2 separate regions of the Homo sapiens genome follow, and region 1 is linked to region 2. Evidence: fine-mapped expression QTL. A gene starts in region 2. The other region holds a variant in brackets. All regions are shown on one strand. Distances are between the middles of the regions.

The links.
Region 1: its variant is fine-mapped to the expression of LINC03036 in adrenal gland (GTEx, PIP 0.94).

Annotation. Positions count from the first base shown.
Region 1 is chr10:118,945,195-118,960,839 of GRCh38, reverse strand. The region is part of intron 2 of LINC03036 (long intergenic non-protein coding RNA 3036); the gene reads left to right. Among named protein-coding and RNA genes, the nearest start is that of LINC03036, 77 kb to the left of the region's middle. RefSeq lists enhancers at 435-1,164, 1,165-1,895. The variant A/G (reference allele first, on the strand shown) is at 7,303.
Region 2 is chr10:119,021,985-119,037,629 of GRCh38, reverse strand. It overlaps LINC03036 (long intergenic non-protein coding RNA 3036), which reads left to right and starts at 8,059. Exons shown (of 4, transcript NR_186540.1): 1 at 8,059-8,285; 2 at 11,770-11,833. NANOS1 (nanos C2HC-type zinc finger 1) reads right to left here and starts at 7,916. Exons shown (of 1, transcript NM_199461.4): 1 at 3,900-7,916. The coding sequence starts at 7,828. The coding sequence ends at 6,950. It overlaps EIF3A (eukaryotic translation initiation factor 3 subunit A), which reads left to right. Exons shown (of 22, transcript NM_003750.4): 21 at 321-511; 22 at 1,362-3,960. The coding sequence ends at 1,591. RefSeq lists silencers at 6,845-7,144, 7,515-7,724, 7,845-8,314 and enhancers at 8,139-8,639, 12,279-12,852, 14,038-14,680, 14,681-15,323.

The sequences.
Region 1 (15,645 bases), 77 kb after region 2:
TGCTTTTTATGGGTGGAATCACCTGCATCCCTTCCAGATCCCCAAGGCTTGGAGAGAGGACGCCCCTTATCACAGCTCCTTCTGCCAACTCCCAATGAGAAATGATGTCCCCACGGCGGGGGAAGAGATGGGTTTCACGTCCACCTCCTGCCATCTTGCTCAGGACCACACCCAGCCCCATGAAGAGGCAGGCAGGGTACTTTTCCAAACCAGTCCGCTTCATGGTGGGGATAAAATAAAGATGCTCTAGGTTTCCCCTCATGCTGTGTGTGCGTGTGCACATGTGTGTGTGCACGTGCGCATGCGTGTTTCCATTTAGGGACTGGGTGAAACTCAAAGTGAACTTTCTTGGAATTTCAGTGGAATTTCTTGGCAGGGCCTTACCTTGGGAAGGAGGAGGCAACCCGGAGGCCTGGGGCCAGGGCGGGGAGGGCGGATGTTCCTGTGGTCTCACCGGCTGCTTCTCCCCTTTCCTGGAAGCCCCAAGCCTGCCTTTGTACTTAGCTGGACCTGCTCTGCAGGACTGAATGTAACTTTGTGTAACTCTTGCTGAATTGCTGGAGGGCTTGGGCTGACTCCTACCCAATGACGATGTGGACACCACTTAGTGCTTCCTTATGCCTAGGCCAAGTGCTTGATACACAGCAGATCCTTTCACCCACACAACAGCCCTGTGTGGAAGGTACTGTTCCTTTCTGCATTTTCCAGATATGGAAGCTGAGGCCCAGAAAGGTTGTTTAACAGCCCACGGTCACTCAGCTAGGAATAAATGGAGTCAGGATTTGAATCCAGACTTTCCAACTTACAGCGTGGCTGTGGGTCAGAGAGCTTCCTTGATGGCAGCTGGCTTCGGCTTCTTACTCTGTTCCTCCCCAAGTTCCCCAAAAGGCCCTTGCTGTCTCCTGGCTTCTAAGTTTCTGCACAGGTGCATCCTTGGGCTGAAACAACCACTCCTGTATCCTCTCATGGGTATTCACAAGGCACACTAGCATGTTAAAGTTACTTCACCTGGCTAACTCCCACTTGTTCTCAGAACCTGGCTTAGAGACTGCCTCCTCCAGGAAGCTCTCCCTGAGTACCACCACCTCCAAAGTCCAGGCGGGGTACCCCTACTGGTACTCCCATGGCATCGGGCCTCCTCCTAGCAGGTTGTTGCCCACTGCTGTTGCCGTGGGGGTGCTGCTTGTCTGTCTCCATCAGTGCAAGCTTCTCAAGGGTGGGGTCTGCTCCTGTGTTTGGGGAATGAGTGGTTAACTCTTGTCTTTTGCTGCAGTGTCTAGGATGATCCATCCTTTGTTTCTGGTTAGGGATGTGGCCGGGTTGCTGGGGGTCCATCCCTCCTCCCTTCCTTGTGCCTCAGTTTCCTATCTGGAATTTCAGGAGACTCACAGTTACCCCTTGTAGCATTGTCATGAGGCTTTAAAGAGTGGATACAGATAGAGCCTGTAGAACAGCCCCGGCCATGTGTGAGCTGCCTTTACTGTGCTGGGTGCTTTTGATGCCAAGGAGGGGTGGGGAGGCTCGGCCCAGGCTGACCTACTTCTCCTCAGGCACTGCTCTCGTGGTGAATGACTCAGCATTTTGAACTCTGACTTCTTTCTTTAGGAGCCAGATCATTCTATTGCCATACCAAAGATATTTGGCAAGGTTAAATGCCAACTATGTGTATGGGGGGTGGTGGGGGGTGGCTGGGGAGGGGAACGGGGACACACGCGGTCCCTGGAATTCAGTGCAACACAGGACTGGAAGTCACACTCTTGCTGCAGATCTGTAGAGCACCAGCTTGCAGCCCCATGAACCTAAAGTGGCCCTGAGGTTATCCCACAGGGAGGCAAATGCATCTTCCATATGGGGAGCTCCAAACTCCCTGAACATGGGCCTTTTCCTCTGTTACCACTGGACTCGCTCTTGCAGGATTTTCCCAGCTCCACTCTACAGAGGCAAATCCCACCAGAGGCTCTGAGAAGAGGCTTCTGTGGTTACATAAATTTAGGACAAAATAAAAAATCAAAACTAAAAAAACAAAAAAATAGAAGTAGGACAACCATTCCTGTATCCGCTCATGGGTATTCACAAGACACACTAGCATGTTAAAGGCCCTGAGAAGTCGTGCAAGAAACTGTTCAACTGTTCCCTGATTACTTGACCACTGTATTAGTCTGTTCTCGAATTGCTACAAATACATACCTGAGACTAGGTCATTTATAAGAAAAGAGTTTTTTGTTTTTTTTTTTTAGAAGGAGTCTCACCGTGTCTCTCAGGCTGGAGTGTAGTGGTGTGATCTCAGCTAACTGCAACCTCCGCCTCCTGGGTTTAAGCGATTCTTGCGCCTCAACCTCTCGAGTAGCTGGGATTACAGGTGTGCACCACCATGCCCGGCTAATTTTAGTATTTTTAGTAGAGACGATGTTTTGCCATGTTGGCCAGGCTGGTCTTGAACTCCTGACCTCAGGTGATCCACCCGCCTCAGCCTCCTAAAGTGCTGGGATATCAAGCGTGAGCCACCATGCCCCGCCAAGAAAAGAGGCTTAATTGGCTCATGATTCTGCAGGCATGTATAGGAAGTGTGGTGGCATCTACTTCTGGGAGGGCCTCAGGGAGCTTTTACTCATGGCGAAAGACAAAATGGGAGCAGGCGTCTTACGTGGCGGGAGCACGAGCAAGAGAGAGAGAGGGGAGGTCATGCACCCCTTTGAACAATCAGACCTTGTAAGCACTCACCATCATGAGACCTGCACTGACGGGATGGCGCTAAACCATTCATGAGAAATCCGCTCCTGTGATCCAGTCACCTCCCACCTGGCCCCACCTCCAACACTGGGGATTATAATTTGACATGAGATTTGGGCTTGGACACACATCCAAATCGTGTCGACCACAGAACCCCTTTTCACATATTTTTCCAGGTCAACCATCAACAACCGTCGACATCCTGCAGTTCCAGAACACACTTTGGGAAACCCCCCACAAAAGTGGCTGGCGCATGGTTTCCATTCAAATGGTTAAATCTACCTTTGGAAACCTGGAAAGAGATCAGTGAAAATCTGTCTTAGTGTCCTAGAGCTAATATCAACCAAGTACTCCAAACTGGGTGGCTTAAAACAGCAGAACTTGATTGTCTCACAGTTCCAAGGGCTACAAGTCCAAAATCAAGGTGTCTGCAGGGCCGTGCCCCCTCTGAACCCTGCAGGGGAGGATCCTTCCTGCTCTTCCAGCTTCTGGCGGCTGTGGGCAGTCCTGAGTGTTCCTTGGTGTGTGGCGGCATCACACAATCTCTGCCTCTGTCTTCACCGGGCTGTCTTGTCTCTGTGTGTCTGTCTTTGTGTGTCTTCTCTTCTTATAAAGACACCAGTCATATTGGATTAGGGGCCCACCCTACTCCAGTGTGACCTCGTCTTAACCTCATTTCATCTGCAACGTCCTTATTTTCAAATAAGATCATATTTCAAGGTAGTGGAGGTTAAGATGTATCTTTTTGGGAGACATAATTTGAACCATAACAAAAACCCATCCGTAGCAGGTGGCTCTGGGTTGGGAGTTACTGTAACCATCCCAGGGGCTTTCTCTACTTTCCAAGATCTGGCAGCGATGCCACTGTGTCCAGTGAGTGTCTACTGCATGCTGGCTGAGTCACAGACACCATCTCATGGAACCTTACTGCAGTCCTGAGCACTGGGGTCTATCATTCTCCCAGGTTAAATGGCCCAGCAAGCCAGGGGTGAGTTGGGGTTTAACCCCAGGGTCTGTGTGCCTGCACCATCCTGGTTTTTATGATCTGTGCTGTGCGGCTTCAGGTGGGTATGAGCAGTCGGGCTTCAGAGGAAGTCACCATGCTGCTGTCAGATGCCTTTTCCACTGACACCTGGAGGGGCCACCCTGGAACTGGAGTTTCCAGCTGGGGGTGGGGCCTGAGCTGCTGGAACAGGGAGTCCATATGAACAATGTGTGCCCATGTCCACAGGGCATGGTCCCAAGTGACTGTCACAGCAGATCCAGGGTGTTGATGGGAAGGCAGAGCACAGGCCTGGGAATTGGGGAGGGGAACCAGAGGGACTCCCCAGAGGCTAGAGAACCAAGCAGGAAACCAGGAGCCCAGGGTCCTTGATACGGTCCACAGATGTCGCAGCAGCTGTTGGTCCCTGGCCATCTCACCTGTGCACTCACCTTTCCATTGTACGCAGGTGAGTCCTTTTCTTGGAAGCACCTGCTGCTCTGTTGGGCATGTGCTCTGAGACATTAACAGATGAACAATGACTCCAGGAGCAGCCCTCAACCCAGGATGGATGAAATTTGGTGTATAACCCCCCACCCCCACCACATGCCCTTACCCCCAGGTTTCTTCCCTTCAGGAGGGTAACTGATGAGTGGTCTGTGCCATCTCCTGGAGGTCCCCAGCAGGCTTGGGCCCCTCTTGCCAGGCAATAACCTGCTCTGGAACACAGCCTTCCTGCCTCTTTGCCTCAGCTATGCTTCCTGGGAGTAGCTCCCAAATAAACTCCTGGCACTTACAGCCTTATCTTGGGGTCAGACCCCAGGAGGCTGGCTGGAGCCTGTTCTTCCCTCCTGCTTCAGGCAGAGTTGGTCCCAGGGCCTGGGGAAGAAAGGAGTGGGAGCTGGTGAAGGAGGAGAGACTCACAGTTTGCCACCAGGGGAGGCTTAACATTGGAGGTTGTGAGCAACAGAAACTCAGCTGGAGTTTTGGTTTAAACCAAAAAGGGAAATACCAGTTTATGCAACAGAAAAGTTCTGATGAGGGTGCCAGCTTGAGGCACAGCTGGATCCTAGGGGCTCAAGCAAAGTCATTGCATCTCTTTCCGTCACCCAGCTCTGCTTTCCTTGTGGCTGGCTTCACTCTCAGACAGAGGGGGTGTTCTTCACCTGGTGCCCCCTACCCCAGTCCCAGGTTTATTTTCCACCTGCTTAGCAACCCCAACAGAAAGACTATGCCTCTTTTCCAGTAATTTTAGCACAAGTTCCGGTCCTCACTCTCAAAGTCCTGAGTAAAGGACCCATCTCTGAACCAATCCCAAAAGCCAGGCTGCAGAGGTAGTGGGCTGACTGGCCAAGTGAGGTCCTGGACCTGCCCACCATGGGGGATGGGATCAGCTCCTAAGAACTGAACCCTGGAGTCTGAGAAGGGGGCATTGTCTCTTCCTGAAAGATGGGCTTTGTCGCCTGTGGAAGAGGGCATGGGAGGTGAAAGCAGCTGATGAGGATGGGCAGGTTGGACTGACAAGTGCCAAAGGAGCATAGGACAATCGAGATAGGAAGGCACAAGCCACAGGCAGAGGGAAGGGAAAGGTGCAGAGGGCTTTCTTGTGGAGCCCAGGCTGTCAGATGCCTGCCCTGATGCTCTGTTATGAGAAGGCAAGGCGTTTTTAAAAATTAAGGGGGAAAAAAGCATTTGCTTCGTTTTTGGGGTTTGTTTTACAACTTTTAATTTTGAAATAATTTTAGATTTCCCCAAGAGTTTCAAAGATTATGCAGAGAGTTCCTATCCACCCCCACCCAGTCTCATGTTACCATCTTACATAGCATGCTGCATTCATCAAAACTCAGAAATGATCATCGGTATATCATTACTATTAACTGACTACAGACTTGATGCAGATTTCTCTAGTTTTCACCACTAATGTCCATTTCTGTTCCAGGAGCTAATCTGCTAATCTAGGATCCCACATTGCTTTTAGTTGTCATGGCTCCTTAGCTTCTTTCCTTCCTTTCTTTTTTTTTTTTTTTTTTTTTGAGATGCTGGGAGTGCAGAGGTGTCATCTTCGCTCACTGCAGCCTCAACATCCTGGCCTCAAGCAATTCTTCCATCTCAGCCTCCCAACGTGTTGGGACTACAGGTGTGAGCTACAACATCTGGCCCTTGTTTCTTAGTTTCGTCTGATCTGTGATAGTTTCTCCATCTTTCCTTGCCTTTCATTACCTGGATACTTCTGAAGAGGAGCAGTCAGGTGTTGAATAGAATGTTTCTCAGTTTGAGTTGACCTAATGTTTTCTTTTTCTTTTTTTTTTTTTGAGATGGCGTTGTCGCCAGGCTGGAGTGCAGTGGTGTGATCTCGGCTCACTGCAACCTCTGCCTCCCGGGTTCAAGCGATTCTCCTGCCTCAGCCTCCTGAGTAGTTGGGACTACAGGTGCGTGCCACCACACCCAGCTGATTTTTGTATTTTTAGTAGAGATGGGGTTTCACCATGTTGTCCAGGATGGTCTCGATCTCTTGATCTCATGATCTGCCTGCCTCGGCCTCCCAAAGTGCTAGGATTACAGGCGTGAGCCACTGTGCCCGGCTGATGTTTTCTGATATGTAGACTGAGGATTGGATTTGGGGAAGAAGCTCACAGAGGGGAAATGTCTTCAGTGCATCGTATCACAGGGGTACAAGATATCAACATGCCTTATCACTAGTGATGTTAACCAGGGGCTCACCTGGTTCAGGGGCGCCTGCCAGGTTTCTCTGTGAAGTGTTTTTCTCTGTCCATACTCTATTTGGAATGCTGGGATGTGGATGAGTTTTGTCCTCCCTAGGAAGGGAGCAGCCAACATTCTCTCTCTCCTCCCCGGTTCTTGCTCTTCTCAGAAACAGGGCTCCACTTACATCTGCTGCCAGATGTTGGAGCAAACACTAGCCTTGTGTTCTCTGTCACTTTCCAGGAAGGCTGGCTGTGGCTTCTTGGCAATGAGGGACTCTGAATCGCAGCTCTATCCTTCTCCCATGATGGGGAGAATGGGCTGCACTGTCTGCCCTTTAACAGAACTGGTGTGTTTCAAGTGCAGCTGGTTGGGGCTTGAGCTGTGCACATCTGGCTACTAATTGGAAAACCTGACCCAAAGCCAGATGTGGTCTCACCCCAACTTCCTAGCAAAAGTTTGTGTTTTCTCAGTGATGAAGAGGGTTTGCTCAAGGAGCTGGGAATAATGGAGTTAACCTAGGAGGGTAGCTAGTGGCCTCTCACTTGCTGGGAGGAGATGGATGTCTCTAATAAACAAAGGGATGGTGTGGGCGGGGGCACTTCAGGTGACACCAGTGGAGGGCTCACAGTTAAGGGACAGGGATCAGGGCCCATGACACTAGCCCTGGCCCACCTTGGAAGCCATTTGTGACAGCCTGTTTGTCAGGTCATCTGCTGACCTGTGGCTGCTCTGGAAGTGACACAATTTGCAGATTTAGGTCTTGTTTGCAGTTATGCTCCAAGGATAAGCAATTGTCAGAGTGAGTAAGACTCTGTGCTTTTAGAAGAAGCACAGCCTATTACAATAACTGTGGTTGATGACCCTGAAAGATTGGAGGTTTGTGC[A/G]ATTCAAACCTCTGATGGAATTCAGTCACTTTAGTTCATATCGGCATCGAAGGACAGGCTGAGAAGAGAACACTGGATTTGGGTTTGGGGTCAGCTCAGGTAAGTTCAGGCCTTGGCTGTACCCTTTATTAGTCTAGTGTGACCTTGAGCAGCCACGTGACCTCCTGAGCCTCACATCTCCTCTGAGAAATGGGGATAACAATAGTGCAGCCACATAGCCCTGCAGCTCAAGGGCCATTTGGCTTTGAGGTAGGAAATTAAAAAAAAATTATGCATGAAGGATATTTTCTGTTTTGTGGAAGGAAGAGAAACAAGGCTTCTTTTGAGGTGTGCCTGGGGCAGAGATGTACACTGGGGAGGGATTATGCTGTCTGTCTCCCCCAGCCCTTGGATGGAACAGCTGGTTTTGAGCCCTTCTAGAAGCAGGAAACAGAAGTAGCTGCTTTGGTGAAACACTGTGAGATTTAGGGCTTAGGCATCTGCTTGCAGGGGGACCATGTGTGACCCCGACTGAGAGGGCCCCTATGCCATTGGAGCCTGGATTCAGAGGGGCCAAGAGAGCAAGGGCTGGCTGGTGCCTGGCAGGTTCTGTGCACTGGGCACATTGAGAGATGACATCTTGAGCACTATGACGAGGGGCAGGTGAAGCCTGTCACCCGAGTGGCTTGTGGGCTGCAGTGAGGAGGCCAGGGTGGAGAAAGGTGACAGATTGTGCCTAAGCCCATGGGAGACACAAGAATGTCTGGGAGCACCCAGGACAGAGGTTCAAGGTGAGGCTGAGACCCTGAGGGTGGTGTCTGGACATTGAGACCATCCCCACCTGCAGGGCAGCCAAGGACACTTGGGCCAGTCTGTGACCTGCCCTGTTAGGCTGGGGGTCAAGTGACAGCATCTGTGACAAGGCATTCTGACCACTCAAAGGTACCATGACAAACTCCAGTGCACCCCACTCGGCCACCTCTTCGTGACTCCAAGCCTCAGTTTTCCCATGTGTAAAATGACCTCCTTCACCCAGGGTTGTTATGAGAATCAAATGGTAAATATTATTTCTTCGTAGAGATGAAATGACAAGTGCAAAGTAACACAGCTAAGAGCATTGGTGGCGGCTCCTGACTGACCTTGTCCTATTCAGGGTTGCATTCCTGCAGAGCCAGTGCTCAGTAAATGTGGTTGAAGGAATAAGCAAATGCTCTTTTCCATCATTCCATATTATCTCATTAGTGCTCAAAAGTACCAGTCGGCGAAGTCCTGATATGAACACACTCTCATGGAAATAGAAGACAGAACTTGAACTCTGAGCAATGAGTGGCTAATGGTCATTGGGGGCTGGCCCTGCCCGCTCTTGGGTATTGCTTCCTTCCATCTTTGCAATGATCCTGTGAAGTGGGACCTATTACTCTCATTCCCATAGTGTAGACAAGGGACCTGGGTCTTGGAGGGGCTAGGTAATTTGCCCATAGGGAGGCTAGAGGAAAGGCTAGGATTTGAACCAGGTCATTTACTTCAGAGCCCAAACTCTCCAACCCTTCATTTTGTGGTTGCTAAGAGCAGGCCCAGTTAACCTGCGGGTGGACCACGCTTAGCCCCCACCTCTGGTTAACCACCCAGGACCCCCACTGCACCACACTGCTAATGAGCAGTTTCCAGGAGGTAGCTGCCAGGCTACACCAGGCCCTAGGCTTCCTCCAGGAATTGCATTAGGGGATTAAGAAACAGAGATTGTTTCAGACTAGCTATTGGAGCCAACGATTATTATTTTTTGTACAATGGGTAAAATTTTCCTCTCCTTCTGTGCTCCCCTGCTAAAAGACTCAATTGAATAAGAGAAACAGCAGCATGTGTTATTTGAAAACTGTTTAGTGCAATTACTGCTGCAGATTTTACTGAATTTGAAAATGATAGATGGCAAATCTTAATTTCCCAAGCTCTCCATCCCGGCAAGCAGTTTGTTAAAGACTAGCAGTGCGGCTAATCGCTGGTGCATAATGCCCACGAATACACGTTTTTCCTTTTTATATAACACATTATGCTAATCACCCTGTATTCCATTTTTCAATAAAAGGTCAGCAGAGCAGTGTTTGTTCAGAATGTGCAATTTAAACTTCATGTCTGTCATTAGAGATAATCTAGGTTTGCTGTATCAAGTGGGGTTGTCATAGAAACCAGACCCGCAAGCTCTGTTTACGGCCTTTGGAGAATAAACACTTTGCATTTATTTCTCTGGAAAGGGGAAAAAAACCCCCCAAAATCATCGCACAATTAAGTAAGGTTTGAAAACAAAGCAGTCATAGCCCAGAAGAGAGAGCTGTATCATTCATCAAAAATCAATAACTGTCACACAGTTGGTATACGGGGCATTCAAGCAGGTGACTGACGGAAGTGATCAAATATTTCCCCTGGGAAAAACAAGTAAGGGAGAGAGGATGTGTTATTATGCCGAGTGAAGAATTAATTTAAGGATGCTAATGGGCTTTATCTAAGCTACTATACCCTCAAAAAGTGTTTTGTGTAAATTGCATTGAGCACCTGATCAGGCTTTTTATGCCATGTGTTTGGACATTCATGTGTGAGCCCCATATAGCCCAGATGATTCCCATATTATGGTTTCTCTCATCTTGCTTCTGTCATTGATGAGGACTTTCCCTGGAAGCAGCTCAGGGGTCCTGGACTTCAGCATTTAAGATCCTGCCTGAGTAGCATGACCAAATTTATCAAATACAAAATACAGGATGCCCGATTAAATTTGAATATTTTTTAGTGTAAGTATGTGCCAAATTTTACATGGGATACACTTATACTGAAGTTAGCCATCGATTATCTGGAATTCTGATGTGCCTGAGCCCTGTATTTACTCTGCCACACTGTGCCTGAAGGGTCTGAGGAGATGGGAGGTAATTCTCTAACCTCTCCTGCCAGCCTCTGGCTTGTGCTTCCTTTAATAGGGGACTGAAGTGTGTGCACAGGATGTGTGTGCATGACTAATCCTGTTAAGTCACAGCGTAACTGTGGCTCTAATTTGCTGAAAGCACCCACAAAATCAAATTCAAAAAAGTTGCTCACTTGGAAATGGCCAAACACCCACTTGGCATGGCCACTGCATGGGGGAAAGCTTTTGTTTCTGTTTTTTTTTTTTTTTTTTTTTTTTTCCCCCACTGGACCTCCTTCAAGGAAAGAACTCCCCATCCCCAGTTCCTTTGGGCTGTGGGCCAGAGGAAAGGCCTGAGGCTTATCTGTGTGATGTGATGTGCAATCCAGAGCCAAAAAGGTGGGGTTCTGTGAACCTTGACCCTGGCTGAGGGCAACCTTACTGTTGTAATCTCTACTGCAACACAACTCACAGAAATCTGGTAATTGGCAGAAGATGCATTCATTAGACAACTTTATTGGATTCAGGTTGATGGAGCTAGGTAAATACTGAGACACACATTCAATTCAACATGTGGGAATTTAGCATTCGGGGCCGTGGGTCAAGTGTCTTGGGGGACCCAAAGGATGGTCAGTCCTCAAGGATGGCTTTGCCAGTTGGGAGAGTTGTGCACAGATGTCGTCTTAAAACCAGCAGACAGAGCCAAGGGCTGAGCAGAGGCGGAGACAAAATGCCGTGGGAACAGAAAGAAAGAAGAGATGAATTTCATCTGGGGAGTCTGGGATGTCTTCTTCGAGGAAGGGGATTCTCAGCTGACCTTTGAGGTGTCTGTGAATTTGATCAGATTAGTTAACATTAGAAAAGCTGCCTGGAGGCTGATATGTTGGCCTGTCTGGAGTTGGACTTAGCAGAAGCTTCCCTTCAGTTAAAATCAGAAAATCAGAGGAGTGGGGAAGTTCAACCCCATCCTGAGCAAGAAAGCAGAATGATTAAGAATGGACTCTGGGCCTGGCACGGTAGCTCACGCCTATAATCCCAGCACTTTGGGAGGCTGAGGCGGGCAGATCACCTGAGGTCAGGAGTTCCAGACCAGCCTGGCCAACGTGGCAAAAACCCGTCTCTACTAAAAATACAAAAATTAGCTGGGCGTGGTGGCACATGCCTGTAATTCCAGTTACTTGGGAGGCTGAGACAGGAGAATCACTTGAACCTGGGAGGCAGAGGTTGCAGTGAGCCGAGATCGCGCCGCTGCACTCCGGCCTGGGTGACAGAGAGACTCTGCCTCAAAAAAAAAAAAAAAAAAAAAAAAAAAGAATGGGCTCTGGAGCCGAGGAGGCCTGGACTTGCATTCCAGCTGAGTGACTCTGGGGAGCCATGCCACCTATTTGTGCCTGTTTCCTCCCCTGTATAATGTGGATGTTGGTTGTATTTTGCCTCATAAGGTGGTTGTGAGAATTACAGAGATAATGTAATTAATTTCTTAGCGCAGTACTTGGCATGCCCTAAAGGCTTGAAAAGTTGTGTCCTTATTATTTCTCTGTTGCTTTAAATCCCTCAGATTCTGATCCTGCCTCCAAGCCTTTATCCAATGTGAGCTCGATGCCAGGAGTGCCTCTCCTTGCCAGCTGCCACCCCTGTCACTCCTGCCTTCTCTGCCTTGGCTTGTCTGCACCCCTGCAGCCTCTGCTCCACCCCTGAGCTGATCCTGGCAGGGGGCTGCGAATCCTTGGACTTGCCCTCAGGTCTTAGCTCTTGTCACTGCTCCGGATCCAGGTCCTAGATTTCTGCATGGACTACAGTGACCCCTTGCACAGCCTTGCCCTGTGCCCTGGGCCCTGTTCTTTGGCTGCTGGTTTGGCTCTGTGTTCTCTGCTAACCCCTTGTCTTCTCTGTCTTTGGGACTGGAGTCCTTCCTCAAGGAAGGATTAGAGCTGGATTTGCAGAGGGAGGGAGGGGGAAGTCCTTCCAGGTGGGAGGAGCAGTTGTACAAAGGTAAAGAGATACAAAAGCGGGTGGTAGGTTTGGGAAATGACAAGTAGTTAGAAAGAGGGAATCCAATATGCTTACGGAGGGAGATCCAGGGATAAGGCAGAGAGGCAGATAAGAGAGAAGGATGGAGTGCAGTGGTGTGATCTCGGCTCACTGCCTCCCAGGTTCAAGTGATTCTCCTGCCTCAGCCCCCGGAGCAGCTGGGATTATAGGCGCCCACCACCACGCCCAGCTGATTTTTGTATTTTTAGTAAAGATGGGGTTTCACCATGTTGGCGAGGCTGGTCTCGAACTCCTGACCTTAGGTGATCCACCCGCCTTGGCCTCCCAAAGTGCTGGGATTACAGGTGTGAGCCACTGTGCCCAGCCTCATACAGTTCTTGTGAGGTTGTCAATCATGGTGACCCACACTCCTGGGACCCAGCATGTTCAACCAAACCTTGTGATCCTCTTATTCAGGGTCTGGGCATGGGGTGCACGCAGAGCTAGTCGGTGCTCCCTGAGATTGCTATATAGATAAGGAGAGAAATTCTCTTTCCAATGACTTCACTAAATGTATCAGTTATTTACTGCCACAATAATGCTGTGTAATGAGCAACCGCAAAACCTCAGTTACGTACAACAATGAACATTTATTTAGCTCCCAAGTCTGTGTGGCTTGGTGGGGCTTGGCTGGGCTCACTCACATGGCTGAACATTGGCTGCATGTCTGCTGATCTGCGCTGGCTGTGGCTGGTTTGGCTGGAATAGCTCAGTGCAGCCCCACGTGCACCATCCTCACTGGGCTAGCCCAGCATGTCCTGATGGAGCAAGTGAAAATGCACAAGTGCTTTTTCTTTTCTTTCTTTCTTTCTTTCTTTTTTTTTTTTTTTTGAGACGGAGTCTCGCTCTTTCACCCAGGCTGGAGTGCAGTGGCGCGATCTCAGCTCACTGCAAGCTCCGCCTCCCAGGTTCACGCCATTCTCCTGCCTCAGCCTCCCAAGTAGCTGGGACCGCAGGCGCCGGCAACCACGCCTGGCTAATTTTTTGTATTTTTAGTAGAGACGAGGTTTCACCGTGTTAGCCAGGATGGTCTTGATCTCCTGACCTCGTGATCCGCCCGCCTTGGCTTCCCAGAGTGCTGGGATTACAGGCGTGAGCCACCGCGCCCGGCCCTCACAAGTGCTTTTTCAAGGCTCTCTTGCTAACATCCCATTGGCCAAAGCAAGTCACATGACCAAACTCAGACTCAAGGAATGAGGAAACAGACTCCATGTCCTCAGTAAGAGGAACTGCAAAGTCGCATAGACAAGGCATGACTTTAGGAGGGCTGAAAGAGTGGGAAGATGAAGGCAGTTTACTCTGTCACACTACACTGAGCTAGGAGGATGTGATTCAAGGGCAGCTGCTGACCATTTTGCCTCTCACAGGGAGAGAACATACCAGAGAATGAAACCAGGCAAAAAGACGATGAGCCAAGTAATGGGGAACAAGCCAGAGACCTGATCCAGCTTTACCTGCAGTCTCATTCCCCTTGGGCTTCTATGAATTAGCGGGTTCCCTTTTTGATTCAGCTTGGTGAATTGGGTTCTTGCCAGTTGCAATGGAAAGAAGCCTAACTATCATTGCTCTGATTGCCAGGCAAAGATGTTTGGATGCTAAAAATGCTTGAGGAGAGAACCAATATAATCTAACTCCCTGTTTGAGGAATATAATTGGGGGTAGGGTGAAAATTATGAAACCGTTGTAGTAATTCAAACACAAGAGTGACGAGACCCGAATTAGGAGGAGCAGGGCAGTGAAAGCAGAGAGAAGTTGACACAGGTAACGATTTGCAGAGAGAGAATTAATGGGATTTGCTGGCTGGGTGTGAAGTATAATGAGAAAGTGTGAAATAAAATAGAAGTGGGCTTTCTCACCTGGAAGATGGGGTGGAAGTTTTGGTGGTTTGCTGGTGAACTGGCTTTCCCCAAAAACGGAGCCCCTGATTGTAGTGTTTGCCAATTTTTTGTGGCACAAATATTGCCACCATGGCAGGTTTCAAGGGACCAACAGTTTAGCAACCAGCAGGGAAAATTCCTGAGTATTTTATAGTCGACTCTTGGGAGCCAGCACAACCCGCTCCAGCACACCAGTGGTCCAAAGTGGTGGCGATTTCACACAATAAAGAATGCAGCTGGATTTTGGATACCTTAAGTTGGAGTTGCCTGCAGGTCCTGCAAATGAAGATGTCCAGAGAATGTGGAAATATGGCTCTGGGACTCAGGAGAGGTTCAGTCTACGTAGAGTTGTTGGAGAGGCAGCAGCATCATTTTTGGAGAAAATAATGATGAGATAATGATGACATGGCATTGAGTGTCCTTTGACTCTAACCGGGGTGAGGATGACTGGCAGGCCTAATCTGCCTCACAGGTTGATTTTGCTGGCTCAAGTGGTATTACTAAAAATTAAAGTTCATTGCTCTATTACTTTCCTGGGGTTGTTGTAACAAATTACCATAAGCCAGATGGCTTGAAACAACAGAAATGTATTCTCTCATAGTTCTGGAGGCTAGACATCCAAGAATCTGAAAGGAAGGTGTGGATTCCTTCTGATTCCAGCAGGGCTGGTTCCTTCTGGAGGCTCCGAGAGATCACCCCATGCCTCTCTCCTGACTTGTGGTGGCTGCTGGCATCCTCGGGGTCCTTGGCTTGTGCATGCATTGATCTCATCTCGATCCTTACCTTAATTAGCTTATCAAAGACTCTATTTCCAAATAAGGTCACTTTCCTAGTTTCCAAGTGGACGTGAATTTTTGGAGGACACAGTTCAACCCACTACAGTTGCCGGTGGTTACAACTTGGTGGATTTCACAAAAAATAGAGATTCCTAACTTCTCTTGAACAACGCATCTGGCCCACGGGCCTGCAATCATGTCGGGTGGAAAGGCAGCTGCCCCCTTTCCCTGGGTACTTTGCTCAGTTCTTCACCTGCCCAGCCCCTGCCTTAGTTCAGGTGGAACCAAGTCCTGGGGCCTCTGAGAGGCTGGAATCCTCCTCCTGCTCTTTCATCTTCCCGATGTCTCCTTAGCAACAGACATTTATTTATTCTGTGCACAAGCCACTGTTTAACAGTATTTATTTCCAGAGTCAGAAATATTTGATTCCAATTAGGGACACCAGATTGAAACCCATGCAGCGTCAAAGATGCAGGTCAGGCAATAGTTGAGAGCCCTGTGACAGTGGAGAGGGAGGGAGAGCGCAGGCCCCTGGAGGGAAGCCGTGTGAGCCATGCAACCACTGCCCTGATCCCTGTGTGCTCTTGGATTAGTAACTCAGTCTTAGCTGACCTGAGTTTCCTTCCTGTGCAATGGGTATAATAACAGTTCCTTTCAGGACTGTGAGGGCTTGAAATACTACGTGTAAAGTGGCTAGCACAGTCCTGGCATGTGGTAGAGATTTAATAAGGGTATGGCGCACAAATGAGTGAGCTAGTGATTGGAACTTTGTATCACTTCCAGCTGAAACAGG
Region 2 (15,645 bases):
TCTGCTGGCCAGTATGGTAGTCAGCAGTCACATTTGGCAGCCAAGCACTTAGAATATATGGTTGATGGTCCTAAGGAAATATCTCCGTTTTACTTTAAATGTAAGTAACCACATATGGGTAGTGGCTAACGAGTGGGACGGCACAGATCTGGGTGTTCTCATTTGTTCTCCACGCCCCAGGCATCAGGTAAGGTCAGGTTATGAGTTTAAACTGTCTGTTATATTTGTAAACTCTAAGCCCCAGCTTGGACTGGATGTACTTATAATTATCCATTTGGTCTAACAGTAAGAACCTGACCTGTCATTGTAAATGGCTACAGGGATGAAGGTGGCTGGAGAAGAGGACCAGCTGAGGAATCTTCAAGCTGGAGAGACTCAAGTCGCCGGGACGATAGGGATAGGGATGACCGTCGCCGTGAGAGGGATGACCGGCGTGATCTAAGAGAAAGACGAGATCTAAGAGACGACAGGGACCGAAGAGGACCTCCACTCAGATCAGAACGTGAAGAAGGTATAGAGGTTACATACAACTGAAGTATTGGAGAACTGTCGTTTCTGGGGGGGGGGGGATTTGGGTTATTTAATTATATCATAAATTTGTATGAAGGCCAACAATAAGAGAGTTGATATTCTATTTAGAATTCATGATTTTCATACAGTTACTCAATGGTCATGTTGTAAAGTGCACTTATCTCTAAATTCAAAGTACAGTAGTAGACTAAATTGGATAGCAGGCAATATATATAAAGTTTACTTAATAAAAATGAAAAAAATTGTTATTTAAAAGCAGCTTCCTGGCAGATTAAGCACAAAGTAGAAACATTTTCTCTGAAATTGTAACAGAAGTTTATTCTGTTTTAAAATATATGTATTTTTCATTTTTAAAATCCTCATTTTTCTCTTGGTTTTTAAAAATTAATTTTCCATATGTCTTGACATCCTGTTATGAGAGAATTTTTCTCTCATAGCCATAACTTTAAAAACTCCTGTATTTTGTATGGTTAATTTGCTGTTAAAATTCTTCAAGAGCCAAAAATCCTTTCAGTTATAAAATTTTCATTCAGCCAGATTTTTGCCACCTTGTCTTACGGGTTTATACTAACTGTAGTCCTTCCCAGGCTAGTGGTTTCTGCCTGTTTTCAGATTTTGAGTTTTATCTGTACATTTGTATGTTAAAGATTGTCAGAAATTGTATGAGCTTTCATTATGATTTCTGTATTTAACAATACAGAATTTAACAGAATTTCTGTATTTAACAATGATTTCTGTATTTAACAATCTTTAGTACAGGAATTTTGAGTAATTTGAGCCAATAGAATATAGTACTAACTTAATTTTTTTTTTTTAATTAAACTTTTTAGTAAGTTCTTGGAGACGTGCTGATGACAGGAAAGATGACCGGGTGGAAGAGCGGGACCCTCCTCGTCGAGTTCCTCCCCCAGCTCTTTCAAGAGACCGAGAAAGAGACCGAGACCGAGAAAGAGAAGGTGAAAAAGAGAAGGCCTCATGGAGAGCTGAGAAAGATAGGGAATCTCTCCGTCGTACTAAAAATGAGACTGATGAAGATGGATGGACCACAGTACGACGTTAAGTCTCAAGATAATGGATTTAAACTGGTGTCTTAAATAGGTTTGATCACATTCAAGGATTATTATACTTGTGCTTCAACCAATCTAAATTGGATTCTTTAATGTTGTTTCACCATAACACAAAAAGCATGAACTTGTATTAATCCTATATAATAGATTGATCATGCACCATATCCACAGGAGGTTGGAAAAACCATGCCATTTTCTGGAATTTAAGGGTGTTGCATTATTTCATCAATCATTTGTTGACAAAAAAGAAAAACTAAAAAATAAATTTAAAATGTGACCCTTCAGGTATTGAGTAACACCTTTATCTTGGTATAGAACTGATACTTTTTTTTTGATTTTGAAATATCTGATAATAATTTGGAATGAAGTAAGGTTCTGTTAAAATATATTTGAAGACCCTTTAAAGCAGTGAATCTGAAACAATTTTCACACCCTTAAGTGGTTGATACGTACCTATTTTAGGTATTTTGAGGTATTTACCATAAACTAAATTTAGAAATTTTTTAGATTCACTTGAAGTAAACATTACAAACATTGGATACGGTGGGGTTTTCTTTAGATTTTACTTGAGAGAAGGTGAGTACAAAGCAATTTGCAGTTGTTGTAATGACAAGATTACTGCGCAAGTGTGAATCCAAACAGTATAGCTTTTAAATTTTAAAGCATTTGGTAAATTATCGCTGAGTTTTTTTCTGTTGCCAATAGCAAACTGCTTTTCCATTAATGGAGAATTCATGCCTTTCAAGCATTTTAAATATGACAATATTTATAAATGTATGGTTTGGAGGAATCGTTTAAATTCTCTTTCCTAATTTTCTTTCTTTTGAAGATAGATTCTTTCAACAAGTAATTTGTAGTAATGACTGTGTTGACTTCAATTTTGGAGCGCAGTAGCTATGTTAAAGATGAACTATTTGGTCTCATTGAAGCCAACACAGAACTTGCTGCTGTGTTTTTTCTTCAGTGATAAATAAAATACTTACAGAATTTGTTTTAGTGTTGATTTGTGGTTATAGTATTTTGTTTATAATGGTAAGTTTGCATATTCAGTTGAGTTTTTTTTACTTGAATTTTTATCAGTGCCATTAAATGTCTGTGTTTAGTATCAATGAAAATGAACCTAAATATAACAAAGAAAGCATATGTGGCTAGGATGTCCCCCTAACATGTCTTCCTTTGTTAATGCAGGAATTCCTTAGTTTCCTTGTAACGCTGTCCTCTGAGTTTGTGTGTGCATGTGCGTGTTTGAAGTACCACCTTGGGTTTTCACCTGAAATTAGAAAAATCGTAGTTAATTTGAGAAAATGTTACAAATTCATCATGGCTGTAGGCACTTATTTCTGTTATTGAGTAGTGGTGAGAATTCCTATTGGTACAGCTGTAGGGCCAGAAGAGGGAGTATTGATGCTTTTTAACTTAACCAGATGCAGCTATTTTTGTTTGATGTTACCAATGATAGAAATCATTTTAAACACCTTAGTATCTGGTATTTCAAATACGTAGAAGTCTTTAAAGGTCTTTCGTGGGGAGAAGGACTTTTCTTTCATAACAAGAGAATTTCAGATCAGTGATTACAAGTGGGGCAGTAACTTGCTAAGAGTTTGCTTCCTGGAGAGTAGATCTGTATGTGTGACATCACAGGTAAGCCCCAAGAATTTATTTAATCAGATTTGTTCAGACGAGTTACTGCTGCCTACGTTAGAGTTAGATTTCAAGGCGAGTCAGCAAACCCATCCTTTCTGCTCAGTCTCCCGTACTGTTCTCCCAAGTTCTTTGTTCTGGGAGTCAGAACCCAAGTGCAAGAGGAGGGCAGAAGAGTCTGATGCTGTTACTTTGCGATCCTGCTCTTGGTTTCCACTGTCCAGGCCATACAACTCTGTCTACTCCCATTAGTATTTACCAACAGGTGTTAAAGGAAAGCTGAACAAGCAGCCTACTCACCGATCTGCTAGGTGGTCTTCCATGTTCATGGTGGCTTCTGCAGTTTCATTGAGAGTAACATTGCTGTTAATACAGATAGATCCAGTAGTAGAGACATCATCGGTCCAAAAGACTTTGCATCTCATTAGTTGTCCATAGTGACTACCAGGAGGTGGCTGGCATCTATAACGTGTGGGACGTTTTTATGTAAAGAACTGCCTGTGTTTTTTTTTTTTTTTAACCAAAGACACTGACCATAGATTGACTTATACTTTTATAAGTCTAATTGAAATACTTGGGGTACTATGAAAGGACTGTTCCTTGAGTGGCTACGATTAGAAAATCAGGACTAACAAACTTTTCTTTGTCTGGAAGCATATATATTTGTGATATAATTTTAATATGTATAATTTTGGTTTAATAAATCAAATCTATGACAAAAGTTGTTCTCATCAAAGCTAATAATTCTGCAACTTCCAAAAAGGACTTTGTAGGAAAATTAAAATACAAAGAAAAATAAAAGCCACTAGAAATTTTAAGTCTGTACAGAAAAGAACAGGTTAAGACAATCTGTACCTCTACAGTTGGAGAAGCCCTTTTGACTCTTCCCTGTATTGTTTTGCTACTAGGCAAGTATGCAGCATGTTCTTATGAAGATAATTTTGTCATACTTTGTATATTTCTTAAACTTTGAAAAATTGGGTTTCTCTAAATGTAATTTTGCAAAATGTTTAAAGTTCCACATTGAGTTCCAAGGATTTTTAAATGAATGTGTTTACATATACTTTTCATAAGAGAACCCTAGAAAATTAACTATAGTAATACTCTGCGTTTTAACTCCCAGTATTCATTGTCAGCTGGAAAACCTAGGCAAATTTGGCACAGGGGCTGAACATGGGGTACTTTTTTTCTTTTTTGGAGACAGAGTCGCTCTGTTGCTCAGGCTGGAGTGCAGTGGCGTGATCTGGGCTCACTGCAACCTCCGCCTCCTGGTTTCAAGCAATTCTCCTGCCTCAGCCTCCTGAGGAGCTGGGATTACAGGCGCCCACCACACCACCCGGCTAATTTTTGTATTTTTAGTAGAGACGGGGCTTCGCCATGTTGGCCAGGCTGGTCTCCTGACCTTGTGATCCACCCCCGCCTCGCCTCCCAAAGTGCTGGGATTACAGGCATGAGCCACCACACCCGGCCTGAAAATGGGGTACTTTAAAAATAGATGAATAGTGGCTGCCTGAGTAGTGGAGAGGGTCTTCTGGATTCCTTTTCCAATACTCTCCTGCCCTCAAGAAGCTCCAGCTCAATATGTTCTTAGTTCTGGTAAAATAGCAATGTCAGAATATCAAATTAACATTAGGCACATCTCATCACAGTGACTCCCATATATTGAGGCTATGCCAAAGCCCCATGCTCAAGACCTTTGGAAACCGTCTGTAATTTGACTCTGAAAATACAAAGTAGCTAAATTGATCTTGCCACCTGGCTAGCCCTTTTGGCCTAGAGAATGCGCTGATCTGTTCATAGTGGTCCTTTTGAAAAGGCAGAACACGAGCAGTGAGAGAGGTAAGAGGATTCATGTTGACCTTAGAAACTTCACCCAGAAGGTGAAGCTCATTTAAACTGGTAGATTTTCTATAGCAAAAGAAAGGAGAACAAGTAATTACATGGTTTCATTAAGCTACTTAATTTAGGCCCAGTCAGATCTGCAGTTCTCTCTGGTCTGGGGTTAAGACTAGCAGCGTTGGATTATTTGTCTTTCCTGGCTAAGAAACATTGTGCTTTCCTCCTGCCCCCCAAGTTCTTGAAATGCACCTTTTCTTTCACCAAAAAGACAGCTATCGGGTATTTACCCCATCCTCTAACACACCTTCAAATGAAGGTTCCTGATTGAGTCAATTTGCTGTGGATGAAGTTAGCTGTTTAATGCGAAAGCAGTCTAACTTCTAGTAGCCTAGCTAAATCCTACTGGGAGCCTTATACACGTAGACTAAACTCTTGCTGGTATCTTCAGATAGTAATGCATTTGTGTATTTCAGATGAGTTCATCTTAATTCACTTCCATTTTTTGCCTTCTATTGCCTTGCTTGGCAGGTAGCTGCATTCCATAGTGTGGCATTCAGTATGGTGGATTTAAAAGTGAGGGTGGGAGGGTAAAGTAGGGGTTAGGAACTTTTGCCCAAGGATCAGGTTTAGTCTTGCTTATGGGTAAACTGGTGGGGTTCCGGAAACCGACATGGGTCTTCCAGTAGGAGTGGGAACACATGAAGGACCCCCAACAATTCCTTTAATTAGTGCTTATTCTAGTTTGAGCACTGCCTGTATTAAAGTCAGACGCAGCCCACGGTGGAACCTTCTTGAATACGAGTTAATACACGAATAGCTCAGAGCTAGAGATCCATCTTCTATTTGTTTGACAGGCAACAGCTGGAATGGGCTTTCCTCCACTAGGAACCCTGAAATTGAGTAATCTAGGGTGAATTAATACTGCTGTCTTCCCTTCCTCCCTTTGATCTTAATATCATAAACGTTTTTAAAGAACTGGAAGAGGGTGAGTGTGTAGAGAAAATGCCAAGTAGGAAAGTTACAGGTGAGATTAATGAATTCATACTGTTACTGTATAAATACACAATTTTTTTAAACAGCACCATTTCCAAGTTATACACAATATGATTATGACTTGGCACAACTTTTAAAGGTGGAAAAGGCTAGTTGCTAGTTCAGTAATAAAATACCTGGTACATAGAACGATAAGGAGCTGTATTCTACCTGCTACACATTGTGCATTTTACACCTCCAGCTAGGACAGAAACAAGCCACAAGCGGGGAATACCCGCCCAAATTAATACTGGAAAGTTTACAAAACCTTCACTTCTCATAAGGGTGATGCTACCAGCGGCTTGCTTCACCTGGAATTAGAGTAACTGATTTTTAAAGACAACTGAGAATATTAACTCGCTTCAAACAATAAAATAGTCATTTTGCCGACATTTCATAAAATCGCCAGTTTTAAGCTCAGTTCAGAGGCTTTTAAAAAAATATTCTAGACCTAGTAAAGTGCCTCCATTCATAAAATGAAACATCCAAGATTGAGACAATTTCATACTGATGCGCATCTAAAATAGGTCGACGTATACAGTAAATAAACAGCGCCTCTAAGTTGCCATATTTCAGTTAGTGGAATACACACCCAGCCTTCGCCGTTCTGGATGTGCAAACTAGAAACTGAAGACAAATGGGGATTTCAGCGTCTAGTCCCAATCGTTCAGCACGGAAGTACTCCACACGGTCGGCTGCTTTTCAAAAACCACCAGGACGACGTCCCATGTCGAGCCGACCGCTGAGCCGCACGCCTCCCCACGGCGGGGGCGAGATGGTGCGCAGACCTAGCGGTGCGAGGGGCGGCGGCGACCCTGGGCGGCCGGGAGCCCGGGCCTTCAGCGCAGCTTCTTGCCAGGCGGGCCGTCCCTGGCGCTGCGGGGCGGCGGGCGGGCGGGCGGCGGCGGCACTTTGGAGAGCGGGCAGTACTTGATGGTGTGCGCGTTGTCGCCGCTGGCGCCGCACAGGGGACACGTGTAGCGGCGCAGCACGGGACACAGCACTCGCCCGTCGGGGCCCTTGAGGATATGGGTGGTGTAGAGCGCCATCGCCTCCTTGTTGTTCCGGCAGAACACGCACACCTGCAGCTCGGGCTTCAGCAGCCGGGCGGCCGCCGCCCCGGAGGCCGCGTGCAGCCGGGGCTCGGCCGCCCACGCCGGGGCCCGCTCCTCGCGCGGCGTCGCCTCGCTGGTGGTGGTGGCGGCGGCGGCGGCGGCGGGCGCGCAGCCCAGCAGCACGGCGGCGGCACGACCCGCGAACGGGCTCAGCTCGGCGAAGCGCTCCTCCAGCAGCCCGGCCTCGGCGGGGCCCGCGCACAGCTCCAGCGCGCGCAATTCCAGCGCGCTCCCCAGGTAGCGGCCCCGGGACCCCGGCTCGTCGCTGTCGTCGTCGTCGTCCTCGTCGTAGTCGGGCGGCCCCAGCGCCGGCCCCAGCGCCCCAGGCCCGGCCCCCGTGTGGGGGGAGCAGCAGGACGACGAGGAGGAGGAGGGCGGGGAGCCGCCGCCGCCGTTCCCACCGCGGGCGCAGCCGAAGCGCGGCTCGCCGTCCACCGCTTTGGTGATGAGCGTGGCGAGCCCCAGGTAGTCGTTCCAGGAGCTGAAGGGCTGCGGGTGCGCCGGGCCCGGGGCGCTCACGTAGCGGGCGCTGGGCACGAGCGCCATGGGCGGGGGGGCGCGGCCGCGGCGGGGCGAGCGGGGCGCCCAGGGGAAAGCCTCCATGGGCGGGCTGCGGGCCGCGCGCCGCCTCCCCGCCGCCGGCGCGGGCCGGACGGAAGGGACACGCCGAGCCTGCCCGCCGGCCTGCCGCGGGGTGGGGCCGCCGCGCCGCCTTTTATCGGGCCCACTCCTCCCCGCCCCCCGGCCTCGCCGCCGCGGCCCTGCCCCCTGCGTTCCCCCGCCCCGGCCACCTCGCCCGCGCCCCGGACGGAGGCGGAGCGGAGGCGGGCTGGCTGTGTGCGCGCTCCGCTCCAGCCCGCGCGGCTCCCGCGCCCCGCGCGCTGCGCCAGCCTCGCCAGCTGTCGGGCGGCCTTCATTCCGGGAGGGGGCGGGCGAGGCGCCGCCTCGAGCCGTGGCGCTCATTGGCTGCAGACCAGAGCCCCCCGGCGCCTCGGGCGCCGCTCCGGACGCTGATTGGTGGGAACACGGGGAGGGGGCGTGTTCTCCGCGCAGCTGGGAGGTGAGGAGAAAGTAGGGGAGAGAAGGGCCGGGAAGGGAGGGCCGCTGGGGCCCGCATTCGAGCGCCGGGCCTGGGCTTGGAGCAGGTGACCAGGCCTGGGTCTCCTCGGCCTGGTGGTGAGGCCCCCCGAGGACAGGGGTCAGGGTGGCCACAGGTTTACGCCCCCACCTCCCAGCCTTTAATGGCCCTAGGCCCTAATCCTGAGAATCCCCGCTATCCACCCCCTTCTCACCAACATCAGCATGAAAAGCTGGACGCGTTGGAAGGATGCAGCTCTCCCATCACAGCCGCCCAACCAGCCAGTGGCTTCCGTTTGCACCGCGCGTTGGAGCGCTTTCCCCTGGGCGAAATCCATACAAACCCTGAGGTTCGGGGAGGCTGTGGTTCCTGCCGCGGTAAGAGCGGAGGGACGCAGGACTTTCCGGCTGCACGCAGCAGCCTTCCTCCCAACAGGTGCTCAGGGACTTCAGCCAATGGGTGGCCGATAGCCGGTTACTTAGGTCGGGGTTGGGGCTGGGCCGGAAAATCTCATGGCTGGAGAGCCTAGGACAGTGACTGGGATGTGTGTGTGTGTGTGTACCCCCTCGCCCCAGAGGCCTGAGTCAAAATGTGGGTTGTATGTGCAGTTTGAAAAACAACGTGTATTCAATGTTATATTTTGTCTTCCTTCCTTCCTTCCTTCCTTCCTTCCTTCCTTCCTTCCTTCCTTCCTTCCTTCCTTCTTTCCTTCCTTCTTTCCTTCCTTCCTTCCTTCCTTCTTTCCCTCCTTCCTTTTCTTTCTTTTTTTTTCTTTTCTTTCCGCATCCCGGGTTCAAGCAATTCTCCTGCCTCAGCCTTCCAAGCAGCTGGGATTACAGATGCCCGCCACCATGCCGGGCTAATTTTTTGTATTTTAGTAGAGACGGGGTTTCACTATGTTGGCCAGGCTTGTCTTGAACTCCAGACCTCGCGATCCGCCTGCCTTGGCCTCCCAAAGTGTTGGTGTTACAGGCGTGAGCCACCGCGTCTGGCCTCTTTCTTTCTTTCTCACTCTTTCTTTTTTCTTCTTGATTTTTCTTTTTTCTTTTTTTTTTTTCTTGAGACAGGGTCTCACTATGTTGCCTAGGCTGGTCTTGAACACCTGGCCTCAAGCGATCTTCCTGCCTTGGCCTCCCAAAGTGCTGGGATTACAGACATGAGCCACCACACCTGGCCTCAACATTATAATTAAATACTTTGAAATGAATAAAACATGTTGTGTAAAAGCCATGGAGAATAAGAGCCAGAAGATGAGTTTTGATTAGGAAGATGGCAGGTGGTCTTACACTTCCCAACTTTTTTAAAAATTGAAAGTAGGAAAGGCTTTAGATACTGAGGGCTCTTCTAGGATGAAACCTAGAACTGGGATCAGGAAAATGCCTCCCCTGGCAGGTGGGCCCTGGCAGGGTGGGCTTCATGGGGCAGATGGGGCTTTCCTTCCTCACTCTGGACCATGCAGTGGCTGTGGAAACAATGAGCCCTCACTAGGCCTGAGGCCACACTCACAGGTCTTGGCTGTGCCCAGCAGGTTTAGAATGGCTCAGCAGGGGATGCCCAGAACCTAGTGCTGGCATTGGTTAATATTAGAATGAATGAATGAGGGAATCAGAATGTCAGCATGGGAAGGGATCTTTGGGATCATTCTGTTCGATCTTTTCTTGCCTTTTTCTTTTCTTTTTTAATAGATGGGGGTCTCGCTATGTTGCCCAGGCTGGTCTTGAACTCCTGGCCTCAAGTGATCCTCCTGTCTTGGCCTCACAAAGTGCTGGGATTGCAAATGTGAGCCACTGCACCCAGTTCTGTCCAATCCTTACAGATGAAGAAAATGAGACCTAGAGAAGAGTAGGATTTCTTTTTTTTTTTTTGAGACAGAGTCTCACTCTGTCGCCCAGACTGGAGTGCGATGGCACGATCTAGGCTCACTGCAATCTCTGCCTCCTGAGTTTAAGCGATTCTCCTGCCTCAGCCTCCTGAGTAGCTGGGTTTAGAGGCATGTGCCACCATGCCTACCTAATTTTTGTATTTTTAATAGTGATGGGGTTTCACCGTATTGGCTGGTCTCAAACTCCTGACCTCAGGTGATTTGCCTACCTTGGCCTCCCAAAATGCTGGGATTATAGGTGTGAGCCACCGCACCCAGCCAAGCAGGACTTCTTTAAGGCTACAGTGACTATGTGACAGAACTAAGACTCTGGTCCTGTTACTCCCGGCCGGGTGGCCTTCTCACTACACCCTGGACCAGCAAGGTATCTCAGACAATAAGTCTGTGCATGCATCCGCAGAACTCTAAGGCACAACACAGGGGAAGCTGGAAAGAAGTGAGGTGAGGTGAGGCGATATGGCCTTGGCTGGGGCCCCTGCCCTCAAAGAGCAATCCAGGGCTCTGGCTGGCAGGCGCGGGAAAGGACCTGAAGCAGTGAAGTGAGGCCTGTTCTGGCCGCCTCTCTGGGTTAGGGGTTAAAGATCCATGTTTCGGCCTCTTCCTTCTAGCCCCCGATGGTTGATGTAAGTCATGAAACCAGGCAGTAATATTCAGCACTTGCCAACCCAGATCCTTTTCCAAGTTTGTGTTGGCATGCAAGGTAGAAAGTCATTCCTTTATTTCCTCCCCTTCTCCACCAAAAATAAATAAAAGAACCTCCATGCCGCAGGGCTCCTGCAGACGCCTGGCAGGTTTGCTGACCCTGAACTCGGAGCTTTTACCACGAGAACGCCAGCCCCCCAGAGTGGTATGAAGATGATTATTCTATGAATGGAAAATTCCGCTCGGTTCACACAGCCCTGCAGCCTGCATCCTTTCAAGACATGCAGACTTTTCAAGCTCTGAAGATGGGGAGCCACAGTTCTGAGAATAACTTTGGCAGGAAAAGTTTAAAATTGCCAGCTGCTGTGTCTGATCCCCCTTGGTCAGGCCAGAGAGGCGATGGCACAGAAGCGGAAGCCTTCTTGCCTCCCAACATGGTTTTCGGCCCTTGTGGTTGTACGGGGAGAATAAAAACTTTTAAGGGATAAGAATAGGAACAAACACCTTGGCTGGGACCTGCAGCCTGGGTATGTGGGAAGTGGAGCTGGGATGGAGATGCCCCAGAAGGAGGTGGAGAAATGAGTGTGTCTTGGGGTCCGCCATGGGCTGTTTCCCCAGGCTGCTCCCCTTGACTGCTATACGAGGTGAGTAGACATTTGACCCAGAAGGGAAGTCGGGAAGTGGAGGCCAAGTGCATGAAGGCTTTTGTCGTGGAGCACACGCTGGGCCTCAGTACCCTGGGAGCCTTTGCTCTCAGTGACCATAGAAAGGCCAGTGTGGGCACCTGGCCCAGCTCTGGGTTAAATAAACAGTGACTTTTGTCACCCAGCAACAGGCCTCAGCCTGGCTGTGAGCTCTCTAGCTCTTTGAGGTGTTGGCACGATTTCAGAGATGTTCTTAGCACCTCTGATGAAGTCTCACTGCCTTTTGCTCACTTTCCAGGAGTCTGGAATGAAACAGATGGAAACAGCCAGTCTGTGAACGTTTCTTCAGGTATCCGGCAGAGGTGAGAAGACAGGTGGGCATGGGCTACACCTCAGAAGTTAGAGGGTGCTGCTTGGTTTCTTCTGGAGTGGGGCAGTGGGGCCTGCCTGGCACAGGCTGAGGGCTCTGGCAGGGCAGGGGTGGGTGGTGGGGAGGGTGCCTGGGTTCTGTGCTCCCACCTCTCCACATGGCCCCCAGCCCGGGCCATTTCCTTTGCTGGCAGCAGAACTGAACCCTGTGAGGCAGCTCACAGACCTCAGGCTCCTGAGGCTCTTCAGAAACATGAGGTCAGCCCTGGGGAATGAGGCAGCTTGGCCGGGGTCCAGGCGGCTATAGCGATGCTGTTTGTCAGGTTCTGGGTTCCCGCTGACCCCCTGCCAGGACTTTGCCAGGGACAGGAGGTGCTTTGGCTCCGTCAGCCATGGGCCTGGAGGTGGGTGAGGTGCATTTGGGCACGAGGAGCCCTCTCCTGGCTGACTTTGTCCACATCATGGCTCTGTCAAGCTCAGAGAGTCCTGGGATGGGGCTCCTGCCCTTTGGGGGGCTTGGGCTTAGGGTCTGCTGTTGTGGAGAAGCCATATGGTGAAGTGGGGAGAGCTTACTGGGCCTCGGGACAGGGTTTGCACCCTGGCGCTGGTGCAAAGTCACGTGTAGTGGACAAGGGGCTTAACCTCTCTGGGCCCCAGATGCTGCTTTTGGTCAGTGAAGGGCTCTTGTCGAGTAAAATGGCAGCCACTCCCCCTCCTTGCAGACTTAACTTTGTTCTGATTCCTTCCCTCAGCCTCGGGGCATAACTGTGACAGGTTTAAGCAGAAACATCCCATTTCCCCTAGTCACCACTGGGTAAGGGGAGGGCTGGTGACCCATTCTCACCCTGGAGATCTCAGCGGACATCTGCTGTCTGCTGGGAGGATACTGGGAAGGGGTTTGCTTCCTTATATAAAAAGGGGGAAGAAATAAAGAACCAGGGCCCTCACCTTCTTCAGCTCAGGCTATAGAGCTGAGGTGATAAGGCTTAAGGACACAAAGCTGGCGCAAGGTGATGGCTTACCAGAAAAGTTAAAACAAAAAACAAACCTTAGTGATATTTTTGTTGATGACTTGGTGACTTGTTACACGAGATAATTATAACATCTCTATTATTTCAGCCACTTCAAGTCAGGTATCCTTTTATTTATTTATTTATTTGAAACAGTGTCTCACTCTGTCACCCAGGCTGGAGTGCAGTGGCATGATCTCGGCTCACTGCAACCTCCACCTCCCAGGTTCAAGCGATTCTGGTGCCCCAGCCTCCCGAGTGGCTGGGATTACAGGCATGCACCACGATGCCCAGCTAATTTTTGTATTTTTAGTAGAGACAGGGTTTCACCATGTTAGCCAGGCTGGTCTTGAACTCCTGACCTCAGGTGATCCACCTGCCTTGGCCTCCCAAAGTGCTGGGATTACAGACGTGAGCCACCACACCACGTCCAGGTATCCTTTTATACGTGCAGTTGACTTCATTCTTAATCAAGCTTGTCCAACCTGTGGCCAGGTGGCCTCATGTGGCCCAGGACAGCTTTGAATGCGGCCCAATACAAATTTGTAAACTTTCTTAAAACATTATGAGATTATGCACAGACCTTTTTTAATTAAGCCCTTCAGCTGTCATTAGTGTGTTTTATGTGTGGTCCAAGACAGTTCTTCCATTGCGGTCCAGGGAAGCCAAAACATTGGACACCCTTGTTCTAAATGAAACATGTAATACTGTGAAAAAAAATACATTTGGTTATTCTGTCGAAAAGGTAGGCTACCATATTCTGGCCAGGTGGAGGTGACGACCATGTCAGAATTCTCTGTGTGTGGACAAGGCTGGAAGGGGATGCGGAGAATGGGAAACGGGTGCCGTGGTGTCATCTCACACCCCCTGCCTTGGGCTAAAGTCTCCCAGCTGGTAATAATACCACCACCATCAGCACCAGGTGCTTGACATGCACTATTCCATGTGCCCCCCACCCCCAACCCTGCCCCGCAAGGCAGGTGCGCTGGTGACCTGTTGGAGACGGGGGCAAAGCTCAGCATGGAGCCCAAGGCTGAGAAGCTCAGGAGCAGCAGGACTGAGATTTGCACCCATTTTTCTCTCACTCCCCGAACCTGGGTTTGTGCCTCCTTGGATGCACCCGGTCATTCTTGGGACTTCTGGGGTCCAGATGTGCGGGAGACTGGCCAGCAACACACAGCGGCAGGGGCAGGAGAGGACACATTCCAGTCCGTGTCAGCAATGTCCCCTGAACAAAACCAACCCCATTTAAAAGCAGTCTGGGTGTTTCTGTTTATCCAGTAGTGGGTACTTTGGTAAAGTGAGTAATCCTTTCTCCCTCCAGCACTTGCCCTCCTCCCTGCCATGTGGTTTTCTTTTAGAAATCTGGAGTGTCCCAATTTTGTTTAAAGCAGGAGCTGCCTGGAGGCTGACAGGCGGAAGGGCAGATGTCCCTGGGCTGATGATGCTGATAATAGCAATAACAGTAGCTCACAGGTGCTGAGCCCTTACCGTGCACTAAGCATTCACTCATATCATTTCTGAAATCCTCCCAGCAGGCCTACAATGATAAGCATTTCACAAAAGGGAAAATGAGGTTTTGGGAGGCTAAAAGCATGCCCAGCAGCTCACAGCTAGCTGGTAGGTGGCATTTCTTCAAGGCCCGCACTGTTAACCCTCACACCTCCTTGATCATCCCCTGGCCCGTGGATACTCATTCATTTGGAATTCACTACATCCGGCCTCCCCACCTCCTCCTGTGCTTCCCTAAATGGGGCCATCAGCCTTCTCTCACCCGTCGTCAATCCCTGCTGTCTGCAGGGGGAGGGAAGTAAAAAGCTGACAGGAAGGAGTTACATGTAAAATGGTAACCTGTAGATTGAGACTGTTCTCCAACAGGTCTGAGGGCTCTAGGCAGAGGGAGGGGAAGCGGGGATATGAGGGCTGTGGAAAGGATGGGACCAGACTGCCAAGCAAAGAATGCTATGTGTGGTTCTGCAGGTTGTGTACAGTTCTGCAGGTTGTGTACTGCACAACCGCTTCCCATCTAAGGGGGCACCTTTACTTCATAGACATAGTAACTCTGTGATCATTTTCTGGCCGACCTTGAGTAAAGTATCTTCTAACGAAATCAGTATATTATGACACTTCACTGACAGATGGAAAAAGATACCTTGTGGAAGAAGTGTCTTTTCCTAATTTGCTCAAAGCCCAAAGCTTTGGCTCTGGCCGAGGTGTGAAATGCTGAGCTTCTTGAAGGCGGGCCTCAAGTTTGACATTAGTACCCCTTTTCTTGTTTCCCCATTCTGAAGCTTCAGGTGGAGAGTCTCCTGAATTCAGCTGATCAGGTGCTGGGCACAGTTCTGCCCTGGTTGTTACTGGTGGATCAGCTGCCCCTTGGGACTAACATTTAACTTTATTTTTGAGACAGTCTTGCTCTGTCGCCCAGGCTGGAATGCAGTGGCACGAGCTTGGCTCACTGCAACCTCTGCCTCCTGGGTTCAAGCGATTCTTCTGTCTCAGCCTCCTGAGTAGCTGGGACTACAGGCATGCACCACCACGCCTGGCTAATTTTCATATTTTTAGTAGAGATGGGGTTTTGCCATGTTGCTCAGGTTGGTCTAGAACTCCTGGGCTCAAGCAGTCCGCCCGCCTCACCCTCCCAAAGTGCTGGGATTACAGGCGTGAGCCACCTCGCTGGGCCGGGACTAACATTTTAAAGATTGCTCAAGTCATTTTAGCCATCTTCTTCTGGTCTTATCTGATTTGCACTGATCCTCTCCCAGCCGTCCTGAGTTCTCCAGGGATTTTGTGTG